Linked DNA regions of Homo sapiens: region 2 is linked to region 1. Evidence: fine-mapped expression QTL. A gene starts in region 1. The other region holds a variant in brackets. All regions are shown on one strand. Distances are between the middles of the regions.

Region 1 (15,278 bases):
TGAGGCAGGAGAATCACTTGAACCCAGGAGGTGGAGGTTGTAGTGAGCCGAGATCATGCCATTGTACTCCAGCCTGGGCAACAGAGTGAGACACTGTCTCAAAAAAAAAAAAAATCAGCCAAATAAACATTTCATTATGGGTTATTATGAGGCAGCTGCATATAGCAGACAGACCTGGAGATCACTTAACTCTTTCAGAAAAGGTGATCTTAGGTCCATTGTCAAACGGATGGACAGCTTCTCAGCATTTTGTAGACTCTCTGTTTTCTTTTGGGTTTAGTAGGTCGTAGGCTCTCAGTCTGCTTTTTTTTGGTGCAAAATAACAATGTTAGACCAGATGAGTAATTTACAATTTGTGTGCTTCAAAAGGTTCTAAATATTCAAAGCACATTTCATTTAAAAATGTCTTTTATGAATTTAGTTTTCAAAATGTTATTTTAAAATATGTTTTCTGAATTTAATATGATACAACAGTACAAACAGTGATAGGAAGCAAATTCGGATGTAGTTGAGAGTGTTGAAGGAAAACTGGATGTGTTAACCAAAAAATATGCCTCTTTGACAAAAAAATTTTTAAGCTAAGAGCAAGTGGGAGGAAGCAGATACAGGAAAGCTCTCTGCCTCTCCTCTGTTTACCTAGTGGCAGGACACAGATTTACAAAGACAAAGGTGCCCTTCTTCCCTCTGTACCCGGAAGGACAAAAGTTAACCACTGAAGACAACTGTAGCCCTCATCTGGCTGGAGATGGCACAAGAGGAATCTACGTTAATAAGCTTTGCTAAGTGGACTTCATCTATCATTATTTTGCCTTCCCACAATTTGCCACCTCCAGAGATTCAAAGTTCTTTTCCTCTGTCTTGTCCTTTCTTTAGAAATGTAGTGTGTTTTTTGTTTGTTTGTTTGAGACAGGGTCTTGCTCTGTCACCCAGGCTGGAGTGCAGTGGCATGATCATGGCTCACTGCAGCCACAACCTCCTGGGCTCAAGGGATCCTCTGGCCTCAGCCTCCCAAAGTGCTGGGATTATAGCAGTGAGTCACTGTGCTGGTCCTTAATGTTCTTTATTGAAGTTTATATAAGCTAGAGGTCTGAGTCACCTCTTTGAGAATTATTCATTCCCTGGGCATCTCCCATATACATATAAAATATACATGATAATAAACATGTTTGCTCTTGCTTTGATAATCTGTTTTTTGTTACAGGGGGTCCCTTCTAACAACGCATTAGGGGTGAGGAAAAAAATTAGTTTTCTTTCTTTACACTGTAAACTTCATTAATGTGTTCTTATTGAGTAAATTTGTACTACATGAAGTAAATTTTATGAGTTTGAACCACAAATACATTTGTGGTTATAAAATAACACTTGTTTTTATGGCATGGTGGTGTACACCTGTAGTTCCAGTTATGCAGGAGGCCAAGGCAGGCAGATGGCTTAATTCCAGGATTTCGAGGCTATAGTGTGCTATGAGCTTGCCTGTGAATAGCCACTGCACTCTAGCCTGGGCAACATAGCGAGATCCCATCTCTAAAATAAATATGTAAATACATAAATAAATAAAACATTATTTATTTTCTATATTGGGCTTTTATGTAGAATTTTACATGTCTGTTTTCCAAGGTAGAATTCTGAAGACACTTACACTCAGCCAGCTTATTTGGACTGTAGTCCAGTTATAATGAATTTTCTATAGCAGACCAACAGGTAATCATCATCATAACAGCCAATACAGAAGGCTTACTACACATTACACACTGATTTAGTTACTTCACATGCATTAAGTCTTAAATCTTTCAAATGCTTTATGAGGTGCTATGGTGATTATTTTCTCACAGACAGGAAACTGGTGTAAGAGCCAGAGTCCCCCTTACCTACTACTAAGCTCTATCACCTCTCAGTAGAGCTTAGTAGTTCTGGCTTGTTTACTGCACATCCCTTTCTTGGAAATATGATCACAGGAACTCTCCCTAGCTAGACATTTTTCTTTCCTCTTCTCTGTTTAGTCGATTCACACATGCCCCAAGGCTCCAGCTCAAGTCCCACCTCTCTGGAAGGCATTGTCAAGCATACCTGACTCACAGGGTTCCCTTGCTCTCTGGCCTACTGGTAGCATTGTCTCATGCTAGGAAGCCTGTTTATATGAAGTCCAAAGAGTGAGTTAGAGGAATTGGTAAAGTTCCCTAGGGCTTCTGGGTAGAGAATGTAGAGGCAGGAGCTGAGGAGTGTGATAGGGAGAATCTGTGAACAATGGTTTAGTTTAGACTGATCCTAAGACAGAGGGAAGCAGAACATGACTTTTAGTGTGATTTGATCAGATTGGCATTTGAAAGGTTATAGCAGCACGAAAAAGCAGTAGAGAGAGACTAGTGTCAAATCTAAGGCTGGGAGAATAGAGTTGGCTACACCTGTGCAGGTAAGGGGTCATGGCTTGCATTCAGTGGGAGGAGGGGTAAAAATGGATTGGGAGAGACTTGGTAACTATTTAGGTGTGGAAGGTGTGAACGTTGATGTCAGACTCCAAGTCAGAAATTTTTAGATTAATTATTCAAAAACTAATAGACTCTACTTTTTAGAGCAGTTTTAGGTTGGCAGCTGCTGTTGCTGTATAGTTCTATGGGTTTTGATACATGCATAATGTCATATATTCATGAGGACAGTATCATACAGAATAGTTTCACTGCCCTAAAAATCCCCTGTGCTTCACATTCATCCCTCCCTCCGACCTCCAACTTCCCCAAACCCTGGTAACCACTGATCTGTTTACTGTCTCCATAGTTTTATTCAGAATGTAATATAATTGGAATCATGTGTTATGTAGCCTTTTCAGACTGGCTTCTTTCACTTAGTAATATGCAGTTAAGTTTCCTCTAGGTCTTTTTGTGGCTTGATAGCTCATTTCTTTTTAGCACAGAATAGTATGGCATTATATGGATATACAACAGCTTGTTTATCCCACCTATTGAAGGACATCTCAGTTGCTTCCACGTTTTGGCAATTCTGAATAAAGCTGCTATAAACATCCATGTGAAACAAAATAAAAATAAAATAAAATAGAAATAAAACATCCATTCATCCATTCCATTTGCATTCAGTGGGAGTAGGGGTAAAAATGGATTGGGGTAAAAACAAATAGGTTTTTTTTTTTTTAAGAAACTGATGTTTATTTTCCATCAACCATTTTTCCATGTTGCTTAAGAGCCTATGCAAGAACAGCTTAAGACCAGTCAGTGGTTGCTCCTACCCATTCAGTGGCCTGAGCAGTGGGAGCTGCAGACCAGTCTTCCGTGGCAGGCTGAGCGCTCCAGTCTTCAGTAGGGAACTGCTGAATAGGCACAGAGGGCACCTGTACACCTTCAGACCAGTCTGCAACCTCAGGCTGAGTAGCAGTGAACTCAGGAGCTGGAGCAGTCCATTCACCCTGAAATTCCTCCTTGGTCACTGCCTTTTCAGCAGCAGCCTGCTCTTCTTTTTCAATATCTTCAGGATCTCTGTAGAAGTAGAGATCAGGCATGACCTCCCACGGGTGGTCATAGGAAATCGTGCTACACATGCGCAGAACTTCCCGAGCCAGCATCTACCACATCAAACCCACTGAGTGAGCTCCCTTGTTGTTGCATGGGATGGCAATGTCCACATAGCGCATAGGAGAATCTGTGTTACACAGAGCAATGGTAGGTAGGTTAACATAAGATGCCTCCGTGAGAGGCTGGTGGTCAGCCCTGGGGTCAGTAACCACAAGAAGCCATGGCTCCCGGAAGGCTGCCTGGATCTGGTTAGTGAAGGTTCCAGGAGTGAAGTGGCCAGCAATTGGAGTGGCTCCAGTGGCAGCAGCAAACTTCAGCACAGCCCTCTGGCCAGTATTCCTGGAGGATATAACACTGACATCAGCAGGGTTTTCAATGGCAACAATAGCACTAGCTGCCAGCAGAAGCTTCTCCCAGGTCCTCTTCAGATTTATGATATAGATGCCATTACTTTTCCTTTTACAGATGTACTGTTCCATCTGGAAGTCAAGATTGGTGCCACCTAAGTGGGTTCCTGCTGCAAGGAACTTAAGGACATCCTCCTCCTTCATTTGCAGGACATCAAGGGCTCCGGACATTGTGAAAGTTTCCCTTTAAGTTACGACGGGAATCCAGAACAACGCCGTATGGGCCCCTCTGTAGGTAGCGCGGAAAGCAAAAACAAATAGGTTTTTGTGTGGATAAAAGTTTTCACCTCATTTGATTAAATATAAGTGAGCACAATTTCTGGATAACATAGTAAAAGTACGTTTAGTTTTATAAGAAACTGCCATATTATCTTCCAAGGGGCTGTACCATTTTGTATTCCCACCAACAATGAATGAAAGTTCCTGTTGCTCTACATGGTTGCCAGCATTTGGTGTTGTCAGTGTTCTGAATTTTGGCCATTCTAATTGGTATATAGTAGTATCTCATTGTTGTTTTAATTTGTATTTCCCTCACGATATATGATGTTGAACATCTTTTCATATGCTTATTCAGATCTTTTGCTCATTTTTTAATTGAGTTGCTTATTTTCTTATTGCTGAATTTTAAGAATTCTTCAGATTCATTTTTCATTGCTTACTTAGAATAAGCCTTCTTTTCCCTCACAAGCTGCCAGTTCTACTTTCTCTTTAGTCTTATTTGTGATCCTTCTTTCTACAGAGACAAATTAAACCAGAGAAGTGGACTCTTTCCCTACAGGCAGCTGAAAGGATGTGCAAGTGCAGTTCAGAGGGGGAAATAAAAAACACGTTTTAGAATACTTCCTTGGTTAAAAGCAGTAAGTTTGGCAAAGACACATAGACTCTCAACTCTAGATTTACTGAGAATGCTAGGTAGCATATTTTTGGAGTCAAATGAAGAAGAAAAATTATAAATCCTATAGCCTACAGAATAATTATTGAATTATTTGAAGCATATGCTTTGGCCTCTGAAGCAAGGTGGAGGGGTCTGCTTTGATCAACAGATTGAGTACTTGATGGGAGTTCTTAGAAGTACAACTCTTGGAGGGTTTATTCTTCAGTCAGAGGGGAGGAGCCATTGAACGCTATTGAGCGGTGGTGGAAAATGATCAGAATTCTTCCTTCTTGGGAGGCCGAGGAAGGTGGATCACTTGAAGCCAGGAGTTCCAGAACAGCCTGGCCAACATGATGAAACCCTGTCTCTATTAAAAATGCAAAAATTAGCCGGGCGTGGTGGCATAAACCTGTAGTCCCAGCTACTCGGGAGGCTGAGGCAGGAGAATCACTTGAGCCCGGGAGGTGGAGGTTGCAGTGAGCCGAGATTGCGCCACTGCACTCCAACCTGAGTGACAGAGTGAGACTCTGGTTCAAAAAAAAAAAAAAAAATTCTTTCTTCTATATCCTATGCTGATAACACAGTAATTACCCATATGACTTGACATGTAAATGGTAGTTTTAAAGATTGGAGCCTGACTGCTCCATCTTAAACATTCTACAAGACTCTCCTTTTTTTTTTTAAATCTATCTATTTATTTATGTATTATTTATTGAGAAGGAATCTTGCTCTGTCACTCAGGCTGGAGTACAATGGAGCAATCTCGGCTCATAGCAACCTCCGCCTCCTGGGTTCAAGCGATTCTTCCGCCCCAGTCTCCCGAGTAGCTGGGATTACTGGCATTCACTGCCATGCCTGGCTAATTTTTGTATTTTTAGTAGAGACCGAGTTTTGCCATGTTGTCCAGGCTGGTATTGAACTCCTGGCCTCAGGTGATCCACCTGCCTCGGTCTCCCAAAGTGCTGGGATTACAGGCAAGAGCCACTGCGCCCGGCCTATTTATTTTTTTAGTGACCGTGTCTTGCTTTGTCATTAGGCTGGAGTGCAGTGGTTCAATCACAGCTCACTGCTGCCTCAAATTCTGGGGCTCAGGCGATCCTCACTCCTCAGTTTCCCAAGTAGCTGGGGCTATAGGCACGAGCCACCACCACCTGGCTGAGACAGAGTCTCGCTCTGTTGCCCCATATGGAGTGCAGTGGCGTGATCTCCAGCTCACTGCAACTGCCGCCAGGTTCGAGCGACTCTTGTGCCTCGGCCTCCAGGGTATCTAGGACCACAGGTGAGCGCCACCACTCCCGGCTAATTTTTGTATTTTTTGTAGAGACGGGGTTTCACCATGTTGCCCAGGCTGGTCTCCAACTCCTGAGCTCAAGTGATCCACCGGCCTCAGCCTCCCAAAGTGCTGGGATTACAGGCATGAGCCACTGTGCCAGGCCCTGGCTGATTTTTAAAATTTTCTTTCTTATTTTCTCCTCTTCTTTTCTTTCCCCTTTCTTCTTTTTTTTCTTGTTTCTTTTCTTTTCTTTCTTTTTTCTCTCTTTCTTACTTATTTTTATTTTAAAATTTTTGGATAGACGGAAGTCTCCCTATTTTGCCCAGGCTGGTCTTGAACTCCTCAGCTCAAGAGATCCGCTCACCTCGGTCTCCCAGAGTGCTGGGATTACAGGCGTAAGCCACCATGCCCCGCCCATTTTTATACGTTTAGGTTAATGCTTTCCAACAAAGCTGATGAGAGGATTACATGAGACAGTGTGAAAAATACTTAGCATTTTCTCTATTCTTAAAACCACCCCTCCTCATTTACCTCCTATGATTCATTTAATTATTTTATCTCATTTAATTCTCATACCTTCTTGCAACCTAGGGCTTAGTGGCGTAAGACCCAGGGATGATTTATCAAGTTCTCACCTCCAGGCTTTTCTTATTAGGTGTATCACTGCTGATGAAGTTAAAAATATACCATTCTTGCATATTGACTATTTTGAATTAAAAGCACTTGAAAAACAATAGATACAAAAAAATCATTCTGACCTCTTTTCTGTTTCTTAGAAGCAGATGAAATTACCATATGAGAGACATCCTCCCTATATTAGAAGGAATGCAGCACTCTTATTAAGGACGGGAGTCAAGAGTGAGAGAATCCTGTACACACCTTGCTAAAATAACTCTTAAGCCTCTCCAGATAACTTAATTGCTTTTCACAACTTGCTATTACTACTCTTACTACCGGTATTACTATTATCGTTATTCTCATTATTCTTTGTTTAATTCCGTATAGATAAGTAACTGACCATAATTGCTTCTTTGGGTCCTTCTCTCCCTTCCCTTCCCTTTTCTTCCCTTTCACTTTCCCTTCCCCTTTCCTTTCCCTTCCCTCCCTTCCTTCTTCTTCTCTAGTTCTTTTAAGGGGTGAGGGTGTCTCACTGTGTCGCCCAGTCTGGAGTGCAGTGGCGTTATCATAGCTCAGTGCAGCCTCGACCTCCTGGGCTCAATCAATCCTCCCGCGTCGGCCTCTCAAACTACTGGGAATACAGGCGTGAGCCACCAAGCCTGGCCTAGAACATAAATTTAATATCAGGTAAATCTTATCAGAGATGCATACATGTAAGGTAGAAAGAGACTACACGGTCTGCACAGAATTTTATACAAATGTATAGAGCAAAAAAGAAAAAAATTAAACTTCTCTGGATTCCATTGATTAAAAATTTAAAAAAATAAATAAAAAACTTCTTTGTCTTCGAGACGTTAAGAGGATGCACCTTCTTATAACCTTGCACCCTGCATATCCTGTGAGTGAGCCCAGAGCTACTTCCCTAGGAGCGTGCGTATTTACAGTTCCGAGGGTACGAAGGCCTCTATCTGCATTGCAGTAGAGGGACGGCCTGTTATCGGGCTTGTGAAATTGTCAAGAAGACAGCCTGGAGGGGACAGTCACCGCCCATGTCGGTAACCTTCCACTAGTCTCTGGGGTTAACAGCGTCACAGACAGGGACTTCTCCCTTGGAGCTTACATTCGAATATATTAATAACTCCAGAACGTGGTCAGTGGTCCTGGAGGACGACCGCTTCTGGTAGGGCGGCCAGGAAAAGCCTCTGTGAAGAGGCGATCTTTGAGCTGAATTTTGGAGCTTTAATAAATACTTAAAGAGCGAACGGAACGAGCGATGCCTGACGTTCAACCCAGCGGTTGCCAAGGAGCTAAAGAGCGTCTCACTTTGGCTTCCGGATTGTTATGAACAGGAGGAAGGAGAAAAAAAAACCAGAATTGTTCGAGAATTGTGCTTTCGCGGCTCTCAGGCTGAAAACGGGGTTTCCACATTAGTTCCCATCGCCAGGGGCTGAAACGAAGCCCGGGATCCAGACATTAGGCGCCTGGGGCGGGAGCCTGCAGCGGGAGCTTGCGGCGGGAGCCGGGCGAGGCAGCGGCGGGGCGGGGCCATGATGGGGCGGGGCTACGGAAGCCGAGCGGGCTCGAGGCGTTCGGCTGAGGAAGGGAGCGCACGCCGGCGGCGCGGAGGCCGGCTCTGCGCTTCGGGCCGCCCCCTCCCCCCACCCCGCTCACACCCGGCACTTACTTCGGCTGTCTCCGCTGCCCTCCAGCGGAGACGCAGCTCCTCAGGCGCCCGGCGGTATTTGTTGGGTCGGCGGCGTCAGGGATTCGCAGTGGCCTGTGGTCGGCGTCGTCCGGCCACTGGTGCGCCCCCGCGGCAGGCAGAGCTCACGCTCCTGTCCCCCGGCTGGTCCGGGGTCTGGGCGCCGCGTCGACGGCGGCTCCGCAGGACGCGCAGACCGGGCCGCAGCCCATTCCCCGAGCGGACTGCATTATGAGGCACCTGCCTTACTTCTGCCGGGGTCAAGTGGTGCGGGGCTTCGGCCGCGGCTCCAAGCAGCTGGGCATCCCCACAGGTGAGAGCAGGGCGGCCAGAGTCCCCCGGGCCGGGTCACGTGGGGAGCGGGGAGAGACGGCAGCCGGGGACTTGGGACCGGGGCGTGGGGCCTCCGGACCGCGGGCAGAGAGCACACCCTTCCTCCTCCCGCATCCCCTTGTCTGTGGCGGAGGACCGTTGGCTCGGTTGAGGGAGCTTGTCCCTGCTTCTGGCTCCGAGCTCCGCGGGGACGGGGTTGAGGGGTGGTGAGGGCCGGAAGCCCGAGATGAATCGCAGGATTCCCCGTTCACGCCTCCTTGGCCAGCCAAGGTACAGTTGGTCAAGCATTGCGCTTGTCTTGCCCATTAGAGACGTAACGTGGGCCAGAACGGCTGAACTCGCAAGCCGGGTCTAAGGTGGTTTTGTTTTTAATTTGTAATTATGTAATGTCCAAATGATAACATAGGTAGTTGAATGAGAGTCAGCTAACCTTCTTGGTCTGTCTACATTAATTTCAATAATCGAGACCTGACTGTAATTCATCCTTAGAAATACATGCCAGAGCTGCGTCTTGACTTGTTAAGTCAGCCTTGAGCTTGTGTATTTGAAAAATAAGAAGCTTTGGCCGGGCGTGGTGGCTCACGCCTGTAATCCCAGCACTTTGGGAGGCCGAGGCGGGCGGATCATCTGAGCTCAGGAGTTCGAGATCAGCCTGGCCAACATGGTAAAACCCCGTCTCTGCTAAAAATACAAAAATTAGCTGGGCATGGTGGCGCGTGCCTGTCATCCCAGCTACTCGGGAACCTGAGGCAGGAGAATCGCTTGAACCCAGGAGACGGAGGCTGCAGTGAGGCGAGATCGTGCCACTGCCCTCCAGCCTGGGCGACAGAGTGAGACACCGTCTCAAAAAAAAAAAAAAAAGAAAGAAACTTTTCAGGTGATTCAGTACCTGGTTAGGAAAGAACAGATCTGAAAAAATCCATCTACTCTGGTACTTGTTTTTTGCATCCTACTCAAAGAGTATGGATTTTTTTGGAGAGCTTTATATACTTACCTGGTACTTTATTCATAACCTATTCACATGAATAGGAGAGGGAAATCTGAGCCGGAAAATGGAAGGATGGGATTGATACTTACAGGCAAAGTTGTAGGAGTCTTGTGAATGTAATGATTTACATTAGCCTTGCATGTGATTTTTACAAATGTTTGTTTCTTATTATTATTTTGAGACAGAATCTGGCTCTGCCACTCAGGCTGGAGTGCAGTGGTAGTGCGATCATAGCTTACTGCAGCCTCCATCTGCTGGGCTCAACTGACCCTCCTGCCTCAGCCTCTCTGGTAGCTTAGACTATAGGTGCAGGCCACCATCCCCAGCTAATTTTTTAATAGAGGTAAGATCTCACTATGTTACCCGGGCCGGTCTCAAACCCCAGAGCTCAACATGAGCCTCCTGCCTTGGCCTCTCAAAGTCCTAGAATTACAGACATGAGCCACTGCACTCGGCTACAGGCATTTAATACGAAATTTGTAAGACTCAAAATATTTTCTTCTGTTGTTTAGCTAATTTTCCTGAGCAAGTGGTAGATAATCTTCCAGCTGATATATCCACTGGTATTTACTATGGTTGGGCCAGTGTTGGAAGTGGAGATGTCCATAAGATGGTGGTGAGCATAGGATGGAACCCATATTACAAGAATACGAAGAAGTCTATGGTAAGCATTATATTTTGCTCTGTAACCGAAAATGGTATGATGACTTAGAATAATATATTACAGTATTCGTTACAGAAATAGCTTATCAGTGGTAATCACAACGTAGTTCAAATACTGGAATTTTGGGCAATCTCTGTCTTTTAATTGGAGAGTTTAATTCATTTACATTTAAAGTAATTTCTGATAAGGAGGGACATCTACTGTTTTGCTATTTGTTTTTTATATGCCTTATAACTTTTATGTCCCTCATTTCCTCTATTACTGCCTTTTGTGGTAGTGTGCTTTTTGTTTTGTTTTGTTTTGTAGTGACATTTTAATTCCTTTCTCATTGCTTTCTGTGTATTTCTATAGATACTGTCTTTGTGGTTACCATGGGGTTTATATTTAACATCCTGAAATTCTAAAAGTTTAATTTGAGTTTATACCAACTTAATTTCAATAGCATACAGAACTCAGAAATTGCATCTTTTTTTTTTTTTTTAAAGATGGGGTCTCACTATGTTGCCCAGACTGAAGTGCAGTAGCTGTTCACAGGCCAGGTTGTAGCACACTGTAGCTTCAAACTCATGGGCTCAAGTAATCCTCCTCCAGCCTCCAGAGAGCTGGGACTATAGGTACATGCCACTGCCTGCATCTGGCTCAGATTACATCCTTATACATTGTGGTACCCAATAACAAAGATTAATAATTGGTTTTTTTATGCATTTATTTTTTAAATTATGTAGAAAATAAAGAGTGGAGTTACAAACCAAAATTATAATACTGACTTTGATAATTGCTGTCTGTGAAAGACTCACTTGACCAAAGATAAAAATGATTTAAAAGCCTGTTTCATAAAATTGAGCTTGCCACAATTAATGCACTTCATTCACCATTTACTTCATGCATCAATTGCGCTTGGTCACCCTCTTAAGATAAAACAGTTTACTACATGGATGGTGGATGGAGGATGGTGCTTATTGATACAGTCCCACATTGGTGCTTTTCTCTTTCCTTTTTAAACCACCTGAGGGTATACTTTTCTGCCCTACTCTTTACAGGACCCCACAACTTCAGTGTTTTATCTGTTAGATTTGGCTGAATCTTTTGTCAGCTCAAATGTGTGGCAAAAACAAATTACAGTGAAGCTAAATTTTGTTCTGTGTGGAGTTAATAGAAGTGAAGTGTGTCACTGCTGGAAAACTACAGAGCTAAATGCTGGCGTAAGCAATAGTAATGACGCAGAAGTACTTAACATTTTGCTCAGTATTTCAGTTATTTTTCAGTATTAATGATTTGAAAATTATTTTTTGGAGACAAGGAAAACAATCGAAAGATCACAAAATACCATTCTGTTGAATGAGGAAGGAAAAGAAGGGGAGGGGACAATAGCCCATAACTAATTTGTCTTTAGCTACTTAGATAACAAAAATGTTATTATACAGCCAGTTAAGGAATGCCTTTTGAGTGTTAGGAAAAATTGAATTTGAAACATAGGCATATCTTACCAGTGGAAAATTGAACTTTTGCTTGCCTTTGCCAGTAACACACATCTGTGAAGTGCCTGTGCCAGACCTTTGTCCTTTAAAAAAAAAAAAAGCGTTATCTTACTGACCTTAAATAAGTTCTTAGTAACACATCTAGATCCACTTCCTTTGTTGGAACTGTGTATTGTTGTATTACAAATTTCTTTCATTGTGTGTGTGTGTGTGGTTTTTTTTTTTTTTTTCTCAATGGTGTGTTGAAGAACAGAGTTTTGTTTTGTTTTGTATTTTCAGATAGGGTCTTGCTCTGTCACCCAGGCTGCAGTGCAGTGGTGCAATCTCAGCTCACTGCAGCCTCAACTTTCTGGGCTGAAGTGATCCTCCCATCACAGCCTCCCGAGTAGCTAGGACCACAGGCATGTGCCACCATGCTTGGCTATTTTTAAATTTTTTTATAGAGATGAGATTTCAGCATGTTACACAGACTGGTCTCAAACTTTTGGGCTCAAGCAGTCCTCCTGCCTCAGCCTCCCAAAGTGCCAGGATTACAGGCATGAGCATGGCACCCAGCCCAGAGGTTCTTAATTTTAATACAATCCAGTTCAATATTTTTTTTATAGTTAGTGCTTTATATAATCTGTTTCAGAAATCTTTGACTACTCCAAAGTCATGAAGATACTTGTCTGTGGTTTTTTTCTAAAAGTTTAATTGACTGACATATCTTCAAATTGACTTTTTTAGTATGGTATCTGATAGGGATTTAAATTAATATTTTTTTCCATATGGATGTAGAATTGACCCAGCCTATTCATTGAAAATACCATGCTTTCACAACAGTGCTGTAGTGTCACCTGGGACATAAATCAAGTGACCTTATATGTGTGTGAGTCCAAAAATTCACATACATACTTGGTTTGCTTGTCTTATCATAGGTCTTGATACCTAGTTGTATAAGCCCTCTAGTTTTGTTCTCAAGATTTTCATGAATAATTTTGGTTTTTCCATATAAATTTTAGAATCACTTGTCAGTTTCTCCTATTTTAAAAAACCTGCTAGGATTTTGATTGGGGCAGCATTGAATTCGTAGATTACTTTGGGAAGTTTGCCATTTCTCTCAATAATGTCTTGTAATTGTCAGTGTCAGGGTCTTACATATTTTTTAAAATTATTTTTAAATTTTTTTTTGAGATGGAGTCTTCGCTCTGTCGCCAAGGCTAGAGTGCTGGAGTGCAGTGGTGTGATCTTGGCTCACTGCAACCTCCGCCTCCTGGGTTTGAGCAATTCTCCTGCCTCAGCCTCCTGAGTAGCTGGGACTATAGGCATGCGCCACCATGCCCAGCTAATTTTTGTGTTTTTAGTAGAGTACCGGGTTCCACCATGTTGGCCAAGCTGGTCTTGAACTCTTGACCTCAAGTGATCCTCCTGGCTCCGCCTCCCAAAGTGCTGGGATTACAGGCATGAACTACTGCACCCAACCAGTCTTACATATCTTAGTTTCTTTTTTATTATTCAAATGTTTACTGAAAAGAAAGAATATATTGGTTCATAGCCCCAAAGTCATGGGGCACTTTATGTATCTTCTAACTCAAGCCGCCCCCCACCCATTACAGACGAGAAAACTGAGCCCCGCGGAAGCTAGTTATACAGTTAACCAAGTGTGGGAACCCAGACTTTTGACTCTAAGTCAGTGCTCTTAACCTCTTAACCACAGTACTGCCCAGATGATTTAGCTGAACTAGATTCTGAGGCACTTTCTACGTCATGCGGCATTTTGCTTTAATGTGCTGTGTACCCTTTTGCCACTTTACTCCCTGATCAGGAAGCTGCATTGGCTCTCCTGCCCCTTCAGTCCTCAGCTCTGCCAAACTCTGAAGTTTCCATACATGTTGTGTGTCAGACGTGTGCAAATGCTGACTGACCTTAACAACTAGTTGTTTAGTAGTAACATCTTTTAATACTTTGCTCATTCCCTCTTTGGTGTCCTGTTTTCTCACCTTGATAAGATACTTACTTCCTTGGATACGTGTCAGTTTTTTTGTTATTGTTTGTTTGTTTGTTTTTAAGTAACAGCAAATCATGCCAGACACTGTCACCTCACTCAGTTAGGTTTATAAGATCCAAACAGGAGTGCTGGGAAAATTTAGGAAAAACTGCACTTAGATTTTAACCTGAATCTTTAAAAGTTTAAGGAGTGTTGATTGTTTCATTTAAATTAACTCACCATAAACATGAAGATGTATTTCAGATTTCAGTACACTGTAGTCTGATAGCACTCTTTGTAACATTTCTTGACTATAGGAAACACATATCATGCATACCTTCAAAGAGGACTTCTATGGGGAAATCCTCAATGTGGCCATTGTTGGCTACCTGAGACCAGAAAAGAACTTTGATTCTTTAGGTAAGTTCTTATTTTGATCTTCTTAAATACTACTACTGCTACCACAGGTAACTCTACCACTACTACCAGTAATAATGATGGCAGGACAGATAATATTTGAGCATTTAATATATGCCAGGCACCGTTTTAAGTGCTTTACGTGAATCTATCTTCTTTCACCTGTGAGGGATTATTTTGCCTATTTCTCAGATGAGGAAATGGCACAGAGAGATTAAGTAACATTCTCAAAGTCACATAGTAAATAACGGAGTCTAGCTTTGAACCTAGCAGGCTGGCTGCTTCTCTCCAGCGGTATGAAGTTAATGAAATCTTTCAAAATGTGTGAAGTTTGAGATATAGTAAATCAGAGAACATTTGAAACATGTTACCAGGTATGTATTAGTGTAGTGTGATAGTTTTAACTCTGTTATAAAGTTTCTTTTACAAGTGTAAATACCAACCAAAAATAATAGTGAATGCTTTTTTCCTCCATTTGATATTTGCAGTGTACATTTATGCCTATGCCTTTCTCTTAAAATATAAGATTAGGGACATACCTTTGTTTGTTTGTTTGTTTGAGACAGAGTTTTGCTCTTTGTTACCCAGGCTGGAGTGCAGTGACGCCCCCTCTCACCGCAACCTCCACCTCCCAGGTTCAAGCGATTCTCCTGCCTCAGCTTCCTGAGTAGCTGGGATTACAGGCACCCACCATCACACCCCGCTAATTTTTGTAGTTTTAGTAGAGTCAGGTTTCACCATGCTGGCCAGGCTGGTCTCGAACTCCGGACTTCAGGTGATCTGCCCGCCTCAGCTTCCCAAAGTGCTGGGATTACAGGCATGAGCCACTGCCCCCGGCCTAGGGACATATCTTTTGTGTACCATTGACTTAGGCCTGGAAGGAGTGATGGAACAAACATTTATTGGGTATCTACCCTGTGCAGAGATACTGCCAGCCTGTGAGTTTTTAGGATTGGCTAAACAGAGTAGTAGTAAAAAGTATGTTAATGGTTTTTCATCATTTTTACCTGGTATATTCTCTCTGCAGAGTCACTTAT
Region 2 (15,278 bases), 41 kb before region 1:
TTCCTTCCTTCCTTCCTTCCTTCCTTCCTTCCTTCCTTCCTTTCTTCCTTTCTTCCTTTCTTCCTTTCTTCCTTTCTTTCTTTCTTTCTTTCTTTCCTTTTTTTAGACAGAGTCTCACTCTGTTGCCCAGGCTGGAGTGCAGTGGCTCACTGAAACCTCCGCCTCCCAGGTTCAAGCGATTCTCCTGCTTCAGCCTCCCAAGTAGCTGGGACTATAGGCATGCACCACCACACCTGGCTAGCTTTTGTATCTTTAGTAGAGACGGATGTTGGGAACAAATCCCCCAAAATCTGGCCATAAACTGGCCCCAAAACTGGCCATAAACAAAATCTCTGCAGCACTGTGACATGTTCATGATGGCCATAATAGCCATGCTGGAAGGTTGTGGGTTTACCGGAATGAGGGCAAGGAACACCTGGCCCACCCAGGGTGGAAAACCGCTTAAAGGCATTCTTAAGCCACAAACAATAGCATGAGCAATCTGTGCCTTAAGGACATGCTCCTGCTGCAGTTAACTAGCCCAACCTATTCCTTTAATTCGGCCCATCCCTTCGTTTCCCATAAGGGATACTTTTAGTTAATTTAATATCTATAGAAACAATGCTAATGACTGGCTTGCTGTTAATAAATACGTGGGTAAATCTCTGTTCAGGGCTCTCAGCTCTGAAGGCTGTGAGACCCCTGATATCCCACTTCACACCTCTATATTTCTGTGTGTGTGTCTTTAATTCCTCTAGCACCACTGGGTTAGGGTCTCCCCAACCGAGCTGGTCTTCACAGACGGGGTTTCACCATGTTGGCCAGGCTGGTCTCGAACTCCTGAGCTCAAGTGATCTGCCTGCCTTGGCCTCCCAAATTGCTGGGGTTACAGGTGTGAGCCATTGAACCTGGCCTCTATTTCAAAATATATCCAGATTAGGATCCCTTTTACCCATCTCCATTGCTACCACCTTGGGCCATGCTACTGCTGTATCTCACCTGACATCTCCTGCTTCCTCTCATGCCCCACATACAGCCTGGGATTACAGGCATGAGCCACTGAGCCTGGCCAGTGTTTGTTTTGTTTTAAATCCATTTTGGCTTTAGTATATTCCCAACATCTATAAAAGTGCTTGGCTCAAAGTAGGAGGAGCTCAATAATATTTGATGAATAAATAAGAGAATAAATGAATGAATACTTTATCTTCATATGGTACTTTGTAACTTAAGAACCATTTTCACATTTCTCTTACTACTTCTGATAATCGGATAATCAGATAAAACCACTGTGTTAGTTTCTTTCTTTCTTTTTTGAGATGGAGTCTCACTCTGTCGCCCAGGCTGGAGTGCGGTGGCATGATCTTGGCTCACTGCAACCTCTGCCTCACGGGTTCAAGTGGTTCTCCTGCCTCAGCCTCCCAAGTAGCTGGGATTACAGGCGCCTACCACCAAGCCCAGCTAATTTTTGTATTTTTAGTAGAGACAGGGTTTTGCCATGTTGGCCAGGCTGGTCTCGAACTCCTGACCTCAAGTGATCCGCCCACCTCAGCCTCCCAAAGTGCTTGGATTACAGGCATGAGCCATGGCGCCTGGTCACAACTGTGTTAGTTTCTTATTGCTGCTGTAACAAACTACCACACACAGCATGGCTATAAGCAACACAAATTTATTTTCTTACCGTTCTGTAGGTCAGAAGTCTGAAGCAGGTCTCACTGGCCTAAAATCGAGGTGTCAGCAGAACCGTGTTTCTTTCTGGGAGCTTTAGAGGAAAATCTATTTCCTTGCCATTTCTAGCTTCTCGAAGCCTCTCTCATTCATTGACTGTGGGCCTTCCTCCGGCTTCAAAACCAGCAATGGTCAGTTAAGTCCTTCTCAGATGAAGTCACTGTGACCTCTGCTTCTGGCTTCACATCCCCTGAGCCAGAGCTGGTGAAGAGAGGTGTCTCTGAGTCACACTGTGCGAATTGCCATGGAACAGAGTTAAGCTGTTTTCACATTGATCCGTATCACAAGTGAGTGTTTTCCCCAGCTCTGAGTCAGTCTTTCTTTTTAAATCCAAAACCATATTATTAAGTTTTTAAAAAATCATGATTGCTTTACTTCTTCAGGTTTCAGGTTTCTCAGACATAAAACCTTAAAACAGAAATGAATACCTGATGATTGCATTCCAGTTGTCTGCATTACCCATTAAGAGTCTCTGACCTTTTCTGGTCCCAGGAAACCTCAAAGAATAATCTGCATTTTCCACTTCATAGGTCTTAATGGGAGCAGGACTGTGGAAGGTGACACTGCGGCTTCTCCCTCCTTAACAGTTCACCTATGGTCTGTCTGGTATGACTCACACTTTCTTCGTGTCTCAAATTTCCCACATACGAAACAGATACTATGATGAAAATATAGCCCATTTAATTATGTGAAGTGTTTTGAACAAAATTGTTATAATGTCTTAGCATAATGTGGACTTTTTGTACATCATCTAGTCTGATGGTTCTCACCATTGCTACCCACTGGAATTACTTATGGAACCTTAACAAATCCTGATGCTGGCTGAGAGTGGTGATGGCTCATGCCTGTAATCCCAGCACTTTGAGAGGCCGAGGCAGGCAGATCACCTGAAGTCAGGAGTTTGAGACCAGCCTGGCCAACATGGTAAAACCCCGTCTCTACTAAAAATAAAAAAATTAGCCAGGCATGGTGGTGGGCACCTGTAGTCTCAGCTACTCTGGAGGCTGAGGCAGGAGAATTGCTTGAGGCCGGGAGGCGGATGTTGCAGTGAGCTGAGATCGCGCCACTGCACTCCAGCCTGGGTGACAGAGCAAGACTTCGTCTCAAACAACAACAAAAATCCTGATGCCTAGGTCCTGCACCAAGGATTCTGATGTGATTGCTATGGAATGTGGCCTAGGCATAGGTTTTTTTGTTTTTTTTTGAGATGGAGTCTCTCTTTGTTGCCCAGGCTGGAGTGCAGTGGTGTGATCTTGGCTCACTGCAACCTCCGCCTCCCGGGTTCAAGCAATTTTTCCTACCTCAGCCTCCTCAGTAGCTGGGATTACAGGCATGCACCACCATGCCCAGCTAATTTTTGTATTTTTAGTAGAGATGGGGTTTCACCATGTTGGTCAGGCTGGTCTTGATCTCCTGACCTTGTGATCCACCCGCCTCAACCTCCCAAAGTGCTGGGATTACAGGCATGAGTCACTGCACCCGGCAGGCATAGGCATTTTTAAAAGCTCCCCAGCTGATTCTAACGTGCAACCAAGTCTGGGACCAGGGAAGACTCCTCTTAGGTAGCTCTAAACAAGCTCTTGTGGATGAGCCACTTTCTGGACCCAGTCCCCAAGTCATCCCCTGTGAGTGCAGCTCATTCTCCCCTCTGGGTTTTGGTCCTAGCAACCATCAGGAAGGAGACAGGACAGGTGGGTGCAGGACCTCAGCCCCACACAGGGCAGGGGGACACACAGGTTGCAACATCATAGTGAAAAGGACCGGAATCTGATGAGGACACACTGGAAACATGGTACCACTGTAACCCAGGTTTCCTCCTCACCTGTGGAGCAAATATAAATCAGGGAAATGTAGATTGATGTCACCTTCATTCATCACAGCTTTAGTGAAACCTGGCAACTGGGGAATTTTTTGTTCACAAGGCAAACAAAGTCTTCAATTTAATTCCTTTAAATTCCTTGAAGATTATATTAACTAGTAGGTGAGGTTAAGACTTTTGAAAGTCATGTGGGTATTGAACTGAACTGCTCTTAGAAGAAAATTCAGAGAGAAGGTGATGTGGGTCAGGAGCAGGAAGAGATGCTGAGCCAAGAAGAGAGATTTGGGACATGAGATACCTCAAAAGGTTTGTTAGTTTATTCATTTTTTCTTTTTTTTTTTTTTTATTTTTGCGACGGAATTTCGCTCTTGCCCAGGCTGGAGTGCAATGGTGGGATTTCGGCTCACTGCAACCTCCGCCTCCTGGGTTCAAGCGATTCTCCTGCCTCAGCCTCCCAAGTAACTGGGATTACAGGTGCCCACCACCAAGCCCGGCTAATTTTTTGTATTTTTAGTAGAGACAGGGTTTCACCGTGTTGGCCAGGATGGTCTCGATCTCCTGACCTCAGGTGATCTGCCCACCTCAGCCTCCCAAAGTGCTAGGATTACAGGCATGAGCCAATGCGCCCAGCCTTGGTTTATTTTTAAGTGCAATCTTGATATCATGTGGTACAACTTCTCTCTTCTAGCTTCCTTCTAAAATATTGAATAAATTTTATATTCCTCACTATTGCATTCATATTAGTGCAAGGAGAGCACTGTTTTCAAAGAATTCAAAGAGGAGAGAGCCATAAGAATATGAGTCACAATCTGAAGAAAGACGCACACAGCTTTTACCAACAACTGATTTACCTCCATCTCTACTAAGGAAATGCAGACAAAATTTTTTTTTCATTTTTTCTTTTCCTTTTTAAAAACACAAATGGGGCCAGGCATGGTGGCTCACGCCTGTAATCCTAGCACTTTGGGAGGCCAAGTTGGGCAGATCACCTGAGGTCAGGAGTTTCAGACCAGCCTGGCCAACATGGCGAAGCCCCATCTCTACTAGAAATACCAAAATTAGCCTGGCGTGGTGCCACGCACCTGTAATCCAAGCTACAAGGGAGGCTGAGGTGGAGGGATCACTTGAACCTGGGAGGCAGAGGTTGCAGTGAGCTGGGATCACACCACTGCACTCCAGCCTGGGAGACAGAGTGAGACTGTCTCAAAAAAAAAAAAAAAAAAAAAGAAAAAGAAAAGAAAACACAGATTGCTGACTGCACATCAGAGTTTCTGATTTAGTAGGTGAGGAATTCTAACAAGTTCCCAGGTGATACTGAAGCTACTGGTCTGGGAACCACCCTTTCAGAACCACTGGCTTACAACACTCTCATAGAAATTATTTCCTACTTTCATGTTTTATCATGGTCTGTTCTTTGAAATGTTAATAAGTCTGACGAGAAAAGAAAAGAGTGTTGTGGTCAAATGTGTAAGGGAAGTTAAGATTCTTTAGAGAAATCAAAACTTACTGCCCACACATACACGGCTTACTATCTATCAAGCTTGTCCAACCCAAGGCCCATAGTCTGCATGCAGCCCAGGAGGGCTTTCAATGAGGCCCAACACAAATTCATAAACTTTCTTAAAACATTATGAGTTTTTTTTTTTTTTTCTCATTGGCTATCATTAATGTTAGTGTATTTTATGTGTGGCCCAAGACAATTCTTCTTCCAATGTGGCCCAGGGAAGCCAAAAGATTGGAAACCCCTGGTACATTTACCTGACTTTCTTATTTCAGGAAATTTTTACTCAGAAGGATGAAATGGCTGTAAACAAAAAATTAAATTCTAAGCTCCCCTAATCATCTGAATGAACCCCTCCTTTCAGTCAGGGGCATTCCAGAGTTAACCTGAAAAACTAATTCAAGTCATGATGGAAGAGAGGCTCACATATGCCTCATTATACCCCTTCAGCATTAACATCAACACAGACCTTAAGTCTGATAAGAAAAGTTTACAGTCTACTCTCTACAAAGTCTGCTACTGAGAAGCTTCAACTGCCTGATAAGGCCTTAGTCTCCACAACACCTTATTATAACCCAGACATTCGTGTCTCCTTTCTACTGATAACTCTTTCAATCAGTTACCAATCAGAAAAATTTTAAATCTACCTATGACCTGGAAGCCACCCCCCACACCTCCCTTTGAGTTGTCCTACCTTTCCAGATCAAACCCACGTAAATATTACATGTATTGATTGATGCATTATGTCTCCCTAAAATGTATAAAAGCAAGATGTACCCCAACCACCTTGGGCACATGTCATCAGGACCTCCTGAGGCTGTGTGACAGGCATGTCCTTAACCTTGGCAAAATAAAGTCTCTAAATTGCTTGAGACCTGTCTCAGATACTTTTGGGTTCAAATGGACAAAAATTTTATTTGTTCTAGGAACTTTCTGAAAATCCATTAGTCCAAACACTAGACTACTCAATTTATCCTCATTAAAGTAAGTACCACTTTCCAAGGAAAATAGATACAATCAAAAGATCATTTACTCTTTAAGACATGCTTGGGAACTCTCACCTTGCTGTGTCCACCAATGCTAAACCATTGTGTCACATACTTGTCCAATCCTAATCAAGCTCTATATCAAAATAGCCACCTTACTCCAGATTCCACAAACCTAATAAATATTCTGCTTTGCCCTCACCCTTCCAAGAAGCCAGTAAGACTCTTGTTATGAAAATGATCTTGTTACCAGAAAGGGGTCCTGATCCACACCCCAAGAGATGGTTCTTGGATCTCACAAAAGAAAGAATTCAGGGCGAGTCCATAGAGTAAAGTGAAAACAAGTATAGTAGAAAAGTAAGGGACTAAAGAATGGCTACTCTATAGACAGAGCATCCCCAAGGGTTGCTGGTTGCCCATTTTTATGGTTATTCCTTGATGATATGCTAAACAAAGGGTGGATTATTCATGCCTCCCCTTTTTAGACCATATAAGGTAACTTCCTGACGTTGCCATGGCATTTGTAAACTGTCATGGCGCTGGTGGGAGCGTAGCAGTAAGGATAATCAGAGGTCGCTCTCATTGCCATCTTGGTTTTGGTGGGGTTTGGCCGGCTTCTTTACTGCACACTGTTTTATCAGCAAGATCTTCATGACCTGTATCTAAGTACCGACCTCCCAGCTCATCCTGTGACTTAGAATGCTGAACCGTCTGGGAATGCAGCCCAGTAAGTTTCAGCCTTATTTTACCCAGCTCCTATTCAAGATGGAGTTGCTCTTGTTCACATGTTTCTGACAATCTCTCTCTCTCTCTTTTTTTCCCCATATATTTATTTTTTTCTTTTCTTTTTTTATTATTATACTTTAAGTTCTAGGGTACATGTGCACAATGTGCAGGTTTGCTACATATGTATACATGTGCCATGTTGGTGTGCTGCACCCGTTAACTTATCATTTACATTAGGTATATCTCCTAATGCTATCCCTTCCCCCTCCCCACACCCCACGACAGGCCCTGGTGTGTGATGCTCCCCACCCTGTGTCCAAGTGTTCTCATTGTTCAATTCCCACCTATGAGTGAGAACATGCAGTGTTTGGTTTTCTGTCTGACAATCTCTCTTACCTCAACAAGCACTGAACTAAGCCTGGTGCTATCCATCCATTTTGAGGGAGTCAGCATTCAACTATCCATTGCCTTTACTTCCTATATTAGGTTAGGTTGCTC[C/T]TATTAATTCCTGTCTTACTCACAGCTTGTGACTGGAAAATAGTAGGCATTCAATAAATCAATAAATGTTATTTGAGTAAATGGACGAAATTTTCAGTTTTTAATATGCTATTGTGCCTTTTTTTTTTTTTTTTTTTTTTGAGATGGAATCTTACTCTGTCGCACAGGCTGGAGTGCAGAGTGCAGTGGTGCGATCTCAGCTCACTGTAACCTTCACCTCCCAGGGTCAAGTGATTCTTTTGCCTCAGCCTCTGGAGTACTTGGGATTACAGGCAGGCACATGCCACCATGCCCAGTTAATTTTTGTATTTTTAGCAGAGATGGGCTTTCACCATGTTGGCCAGGCTGATCTTGAACTCCTGACCTCAAGTGATCTGCCTGCCTCTGCCTCCCAAGGCATTGTGACTTTCTAAGCAGGGAAATGGTGTAATTTCCCCCAAATTCCCACCACTTGTGGAAGGTATGTTCCTCAAACACCCTTTGGACAACCCTATCCTAATTTGTTACACAGATGTTTTCTTATAAGATGGAGGCCGAGGTAGGTGGATCACCTGAGGTCAGGAGTTCAAGACCATCCTGGGCAACATGGTGAAACCCCATATCTACTAAAAACACAAAAATTAGCCAGGCATGGTGGCACATGCCTGTAATCCCACCTACTGGGGAGGCTGAGGAGGGAGAATTGAACCCAGGAGGCAGAGGTTGTAGTGAGCCGAGATCGTGCCACTGCACTCCAGCCTGGGTGACAGAGCGAGATTCTGTCTCAAAAAAAAAAAAAAAAAAAAAAGATATGGGAACTACTGCTTAGCACTCTGTCATTCTTACTAAAGGAAGTGCTCCAGGATTGAATGTACCAATAAATTTAAGACCCTTCACTGTGTGAAAACCCTAATCTTAGGACTCTTTTCCACTCAAGATTATGGTCTTTGTTATGGACCTAATTGTGTCCCTCCCCAAATTCATATGTTGAAGTCCCAACCTCTGATGTGACTGTATTTGGAGATAGGGCTTTAAGAATGTAATTAACATTAAATGAGGTAATAAGGCTGGGACCTTAATACAATAGGACCAGTGTCCTTGTAAGAAGAGTAAAAGACACCTAAGAACTCTTTCTCTCTCTTTGTGGGTACACACAAGAGGACAGACACAGTGAGAAGATGGCCATCAACAAACCAGAAAGAGAAGCCTCACCAGAAACCAAACTTGCTGGCACCTTATTCTTGGATTGCTAGCCTCCAGAACTGTGAAGAAATAAATTCTGTTGTTTTAGCCACAGAGTCTGTGGTAACTTGTTATGGTAGTGGGAGCTGACTAATTCAGTCTTCTTGAGGCTGAATTTGGGACCAGTGGGGGAACTGGTCCCAAAATTTCAACGTAGGCTCTTTCTATTTTCCATAATTGCTGGCCAGTCTGAGAAATAAAGAGAAAGACTACAAAGAGAGGAATTTTACAGCTGGGCCGCCAGGGGTGACATCACATATCAGTAGGTCCATGATGCCCACCCGAGCCGCAAAACCAGCAAATTTTCATTAGGGATTTTAAAAGGGGAGGGGCTGTATGAACAGGGAGTAGCTCACAAAGATCACATGCTTCAAAGGGAAAAAGGGAGAACAAAGATCACATGGTTCTGAGGAAACAGGGCAAGGACAAAAGCAAAGATCACAAGGCAAAGGTCAAAATTAGAATTACTGATGACGGTCTATGTTCAGCTGTGCACGTATTGTCTTGATAAACATCTTAAACAACAGAAAACATGGTTCGAGAGCAGAGAACTGGTCTGACCTCAAATTTACCAGGGTGGGATTTCTTCCCCACCCTAATAAGCCTGAGGGTACTGCAGGAGACGGGGCGTATTTCAGTCCTTATCTCAACCACACTTCCAGAGTGGCTGTTTATAGACCTCTCCCCAGGAATGCAATTCTTTTCCTAGGGTCTTAATATTATATTCCTTGCTAGGAAAAGAATTTAGCGATATCTCTCTTACTTGCACATCCATTTATAGGCTCTCTGCAAGAAGAAAAATATGGCTCTTTTTGCCCCACCCCGCAGGCAGTCAGACCTTATGGTTGTCTTCCCTTGTTCCCTAAAATCGGTGTTATTCTGTTAGTTTTCAAGGTGCACTGATTTCATATTTTTCAAACACACATGTTTTACAATCAGATTTCATGTTGTTCAAACACAAGTTTTACAATCAATTTGTACAGTTAACACAATCATCACAGGGTCCTGAGGTGACATACATCCGCAGCTTACAAAGATAACAGGATTAAGAGATTAAAGACAGGCATAAGAAATTATAAAAGTATTATTAGGGGAGTGATAAATGTCCATGAAATCACAATTTATGTTCCTCTGCCATGGCTCCAGCCAGTCACTCCATTCGGGGTCCCTGACTTCCCACAATAGTGAGTCCTGAACATGACCTATGGCTCAGAGAGCTCTCTCTAGCCTATTTATCCTGGTGTCATAGCTTCTGTTGATGATGATAATCATACTACATTAGTCCCCCCTTATCCACAGGAGATACGTTCCAAGACCCCCAGTGGATACTCGAAATCCTTAATAGTACTGAACCCTGTAAGTGCTATGCTTTTTCCTATGCATAATGTGAAAATAAAATGTAAAAGCTGTTGAAATCCCCCAAACACTATAAGCCTTGAGAGAGATGTGACTCTGATCTGAGTCATGCAGCATGTAGTTGTAACTTCTACTTCTTAGGTTATAGATTAAGTGAACCGAAGAATAAGGAGGAACTGCTGTATTATTTTTATATAACTTTGAATTTTACAGAGCTCTTTCACAGGCATCAGCTCAGTGGCACTTTGCAACAATTGAGGGATATGAGGAGGTTCACTGAAGGACAACAAACTGAGGGCTGAAGTCACAGCCACTAGAAAGTAGAAGGGTCAGAATCCCCTATTGTCTTAAATCCATCACACATCCTACTATCTGGTACTGACACAGGATTTTTCTCAACCACCTTGCCAGCAGGAAACCTCCAGCCGGTGATACCCCTGCCCAGGCTTCCCTCAGCCCAGGGCTCCCTGCAAGAGGCACCCTGCCCACTCAGCCTGCCAAACTGTGCCTGGCTTGCACTCCAGCATGGATCCTGTGGCCACCGCGACTGCAGCACTCAGCCCCTGGCAGGAGGGGGTGTGTGGGCAAGTGAGTCCAGGGTCTGGCTGGCCTCTCCAAAGGCCAGCACAGGAGCAGTCTACATGTGGGGCTAGTGGCTGGCCCAGGCATGTGGCAAGTGACTCCCATGGTGGACTCCAGCATACAGATGAGGGGTACGCCGTGGCACACAAACAGCAAAACCTGCAACCCCAAAGCCCCAGAGGGGGTGTTACAGTGTGCTAACAGCTGTTTTAGTTCCTCCACAGCCTGATGAACAGGGGCACGTTAACAGTTCTGTCAGTCCCATTGCCCCACTCCAGCCCACAGGTTTGGGGATGACCTGGCCCTGCTGCTTTCCGTTACGTGGGGCAACTGCTGAGCTCCGAAGAGGGGGCAGGGCAGAGGGCTACAGTGTTACTGTCGTCTTTGTACCTGCATTCGGAGGGGTCCCAAGTTCTTGGTCCGCATCCAAGAAGAATGAGATTATGCTGACTATTGAAGGGTGAGGAGGGCAGAGAAGAGTTTTATTGAGTGATGAAACAGCTAATGAAACAGCTCTCAGTAGAGAGGGGCCACAAGGGTGGTCTCCCACTTGGTCGGGTGGTCTCTCTCTCAGTGTGGCTGGGTATGGGGCTTTTGTGGGCTCAGAAGGCAGGAGTGCATGCTAATTGGTTTGTGAGTATCCAAAAAAGCCTAAAACAAAGGCACCGTTCAAAGGTGAGCACGACTGTAAAAAAACAATTAGGAAAGAGAAGGTATATATAAAATAGGTGAAGGGTGAGGATCAATCAAAGGAAAGCATGACAAATAGAAAGAGATTCTCAATCCAGTTCCTATGTTTATGCAAGACTTTTAGCTTGGCTTTCAGGCTTTAAACTGCCTTTGGCTTGAAGGTGGGGTTTTACCAGGGATCCACCCCATCTGCCTAGTCATTTGACTGCCTCCTACCGCTATCAGTATGTGAAAGACAATATTAAACTAAGGATGGGCACAGTGGAGCACGCCTGTAATCCCAGCACTTTGGGAGGCCCAGGCAGGCGGATCACCTAGGCTCAGGAGTTCTCAACCAGCCTGGGCAACATGGCGAAACCCTGTCTCTATAAAAAATACAAAAATAAGCCAGACATGGTGCTGCGTGCCTGTAGTCCCTGCTACTCTGGAGGCTGAGGTGGGACCGCTTGAGCCTAGAAGGTTGAGACTGCAGTGAGCCATGATTACACCACTGCATTTGAGCCTGGGCAACAGAGTGAAACCCTGTCTTGAAAAAACAAAAAACAAACAAATATATTAAACTAGATATTAGACATTTTAAGACTCAATTGCCCATATTTTCACTAGACAATTTTAATTTGGATTGCCTACATTTTTTTTGGACTAGATGTAATGTATTTTATGTAATATACTAAATGTAATATATTTAGGTCACCCAATAAAAAATTTGGTCTTTGTCTCATGCTTTTGGCAAGGAGCTTCTAAAACCCTTGGAATTTCTTTCCTTTTTTTTCCTTTTCTTGAGACAGAATTTTGCTCTGTTGCCCAGGCTGGAGTGCAGTGGTGCAATCTCAGCTTGCTGCCACCTCTGCCTCCCGGGTTTAAGCGATTCTTCTGCCTCAGGCTCTCAAGAAGCTGGGATTATGGGTGCCCATGACCACACCCGGCTAATTTTTGCATTTTTAGTAGAGATGGGGTTTCACCATGCTGGCCAGGCTGGTCTCAAACTCCTGACCTCAATTGATCCATCCACCTCGCCTCGCAAAGTGCAGGAATTACAGGCATGAGCCAACGTGGCTGGCCTGGAATTTCTTAAGGGATAGGAGTCTTTGTTGTGTTAATGAGGTATTAATGGCAGGCTCTTGGATGGCTACAGCTAGGGGACTGGTCACTGGAAAGACCAACCGCTTAATTTGAGGGTTGGCGCTTTGATATCAGCCTGACCTCCCGACTTCCAAAGAGGCGACTGGGGCTGGAGATTGAGTTCAATCAAGTGGACAGTGATTAAATCAATCATGCCTAGATAATGAAACCCCAATAAAAGACTCTGGTCATGGAGGCTCAGTGGGACTTCCGGGTTGGTGAACACATTGATGTGCTAGGAGGGTGATGTTTCCTGATTTCAAGAGGAGAGAGCAAGAAAGCTCTGTGTTCTCTCCCAGACCTCACCCTATGCGTAACTTTTATAATAAAATTATAATCATAAGTGTAGCACTTTCCTGAGTTCTGTGAGTTGTCCTAGCAAGTTACTGAAACTGAGTGGATCATGGGACCCCCAAATCTGTAGCGAGTAGGTCAGAGTATGGATGACCTGGGGTCCCTGCTAAGGGCTGGCATCTGATGTGAGGGCAGTCTTGTGGAGGATTGAGCCTTACCTTGTGGAGTCTGATGCTAACTCCATGTGGTTAGTGTCAGAACTAAATTTCAGTGCACCTAGTTATTGTTAGCCCAGTTGGGGATTTTGCCAGGACGTTTTAACATATTCATTTACTTTCCTCCCTCTGTAACAGATGTTCATTTTAGAAAATTTAGATATGAGAAAATAAAAATCATCTGTAACTCCACTACCCAAATTGAACTACTCCAATATATATTCTTTCATTCTTTTTCCTGTGTATGTGTGTGCATGTTACTTTAAGAGATGAGGCCAGGTACAGTGGCTCATGCCCGTAATCCCGGCACTTTGGGAGGCCAAGGTAGGTGGATTGCTTGAGGTCAGGAGTTCGAGACCAGCCTGGCCAACATGGTGAAACCCTATCTGTACTAAAATTACAAAAATTAGCTGGGTGTGGTTTGGTGTACACCTGTATTCCCAGCTACTCAGGGGCCTGAGGCACAAGAATCACTTGAGCCTGGGAGGCGGAGGTTGCAGTGAGCTGAGATTGCACCACTGCACTTCAGCCTGGGCCATTGAGTGAGACTTGGTCTCAAAAAAAAAGAGGACTAACCAGGTGCAGTGGCTCATTCTTGTAATCCCAGCACTTTGGGAGACCAAGGAAGGAGGATGGCTTGAGCTCAGGAGTTCATGACCAGCCTAGGCAACATAGTGAGACCTCATTTCTACCAAAATAAAAAAAAAAAATTAGTCGAACATGGTGGCAAGCACCCTTAGTCCCAGTTACTGAGGAGGCTGAGGTGGAAGGATCACTTGAGCCCCCGAGGTCAAGGATGCAGGGAGCCATGATCCCACTACTGCACTCCAGCCTGGGCAACAGAGTGAAACCCTGTTAAAAAAAAAATGAGTGTTCTGTCAATAATTATGTGAAAAGATATACAACCTTACTAATGACCAGAAAAATGCAAATTAAAATAGAAACAATAATGAGATTTTTTAAATCCTTCTCGGATTGGCAAAAAATTTAAAAGTCATGTAATACCAAGTGTTGTCAAGAATGTAGGGAAATAGAACTTTCACCCACTGCCAGTATATAGTAGGTTGCAAAAAAACAGCCACCTATTTCTCCCATTCCTGTATACATAACGCTTTACTATATAATTTTGTCTCTTTTGCCACCAAAGGCTAGAGTATATTTCTCTGCCCCTTGAATCTGAGCTTGGTCATGTGCCTTGCTTTGGCTAATGGGACATTTGCAAATGTGATGAAAATAGAGGCTTGAGGCTGGGCATGGTGACTCACGCCTGTAATCCCAGCACTTTGGGAGGCCGAGGCGGGCAGATCACAAGGTCAGGAGATCGAGACCATCCTGGCTAACATGGTGAAACCCCATCTCTAATAAAAATACAAAAAATTAGCCGGGCGTGGTGGCGGGTGCGTGTAGTCCCAGCTACTCAGGAGGCTGAGGCAGGAGGATGGCAGGAACCCGGGAGGCGGAGCTTGCAGTGAGCCGAGATTGCGCCACTGAACTCCAGCCTAGGAGACAGCGAGACTCCGTCTCAAAAAAAAAAAAAAAAAAAGAAAGAAAACAGAGGCTTGAAAACCTTCTATTCATTAGGGCTTGTACTTTCTTGCTGGCAAGAATCTTTCTGCTTGTATGTGAGCAAGCTGGACCTAGCCTCCTAAATGATGAGAGAGACTCCAGCTGTCACATATGAATAAACTATCTTAGAAAATCCAGTCCTGGCCAAGATCACCAGCCCAGGAGAACAGGCTGCCAATCCAAAAAATCATGAGAAATAATAAATGTTGGTTTTTAGGCCACTGTATTAAGGAATGATTTGCTACACAGCAAAAACTACTTGATACACAATGGGAGTATAAATTGATACAACCACTTTGCAAAGCATTGAGGCAATATCTAGTGTAGTTAAAGATGCATATACTCAATGCCTCAGCAATTCAAATCTCAAATATACACCTTGGAGAAAATCTCACACATGTGCCCAAGGAAATAGGTACAAGAATGCTCATGGCAACCTTGTGCATGCTATAGGAATAGAATCAGAAAAAAACCGAACAAAGTGACTGATCAAAAGAAGAAATGTATATTATAGTGTACTCATATAATGGAACATTATGTCACAATTAGAAGAAATATTGGGCAATATATTACCTGGGGGATGAAATAATCTGTACACCAAACCCCTGTGATGTGCAGTTTATCTAAATATTAAGAACAAACCTGCACATGTATCCCTGAGCCTAAAATAAAAGCTATAATAATAAAAAAAGAGGCCTGGCGTGGTGGCTCATGCCTGTAATCCCAACACTTTGGGAGGCCAAGGCAGACAGATCACCTGAGGTCGGGAGTTTGAGACCAGCCTGACCAACACGGAGAAACCTCGTCTCTACTAAAAATACAAAATTAGCCGGGTGTGGTGGTGCATGCCTGTAATCCCAGCTACTCAGGAGGCTGAGGCAGGAGAATCGCTTGAACCCAGGAGGCAGAGGTTGCGATGAGCTGAGATCATGCCATTGCACTCCAGCCTGGGCAACAAGAGCGAAACTCTGTCTCAAAAAAAAAAAAAAAAAATAGAA

The links. PIP is the estimated chance that this variant, and not a neighbour inherited with it, causes the effect.
Region 2: its variant is fine-mapped to the expression of RFK in whole blood (INTERVAL, PIP 0.98).

Annotation. Positions count from the first base shown.
Region 1 is chr9:76,387,520-76,402,797 of GRCh38, reverse strand. It overlaps RFK (riboflavin kinase), which reads left to right and starts at 8,372. Exons shown (of 4, transcript NM_018339.6): 1 at 8,372-8,708; 2 at 10,229-10,380; 3 at 14,142-14,244; 4 at 15,269-15,278. The coding sequence starts at 8,627. It also overlaps a transcript of GCNT1 not described here and the pseudogene RPSAP9. RefSeq lists enhancers at 531-825, 7,714-7,953, 8,131-8,425, 8,288-9,101 and silencers at 8,234-8,293, 8,314-8,393, 8,434-8,923, 13,451-13,745.
Region 2 is chr9:76,428,695-76,443,972 of GRCh38, reverse strand. It overlaps a transcript of GCNT1 not described here. Among named protein-coding and RNA genes, the nearest start is that of GCNT1, 23 kb to the left of the region's middle. RefSeq lists an enhancer at 5,043-5,132. The variant C/T (reference allele first, on the strand shown) is at 7,235.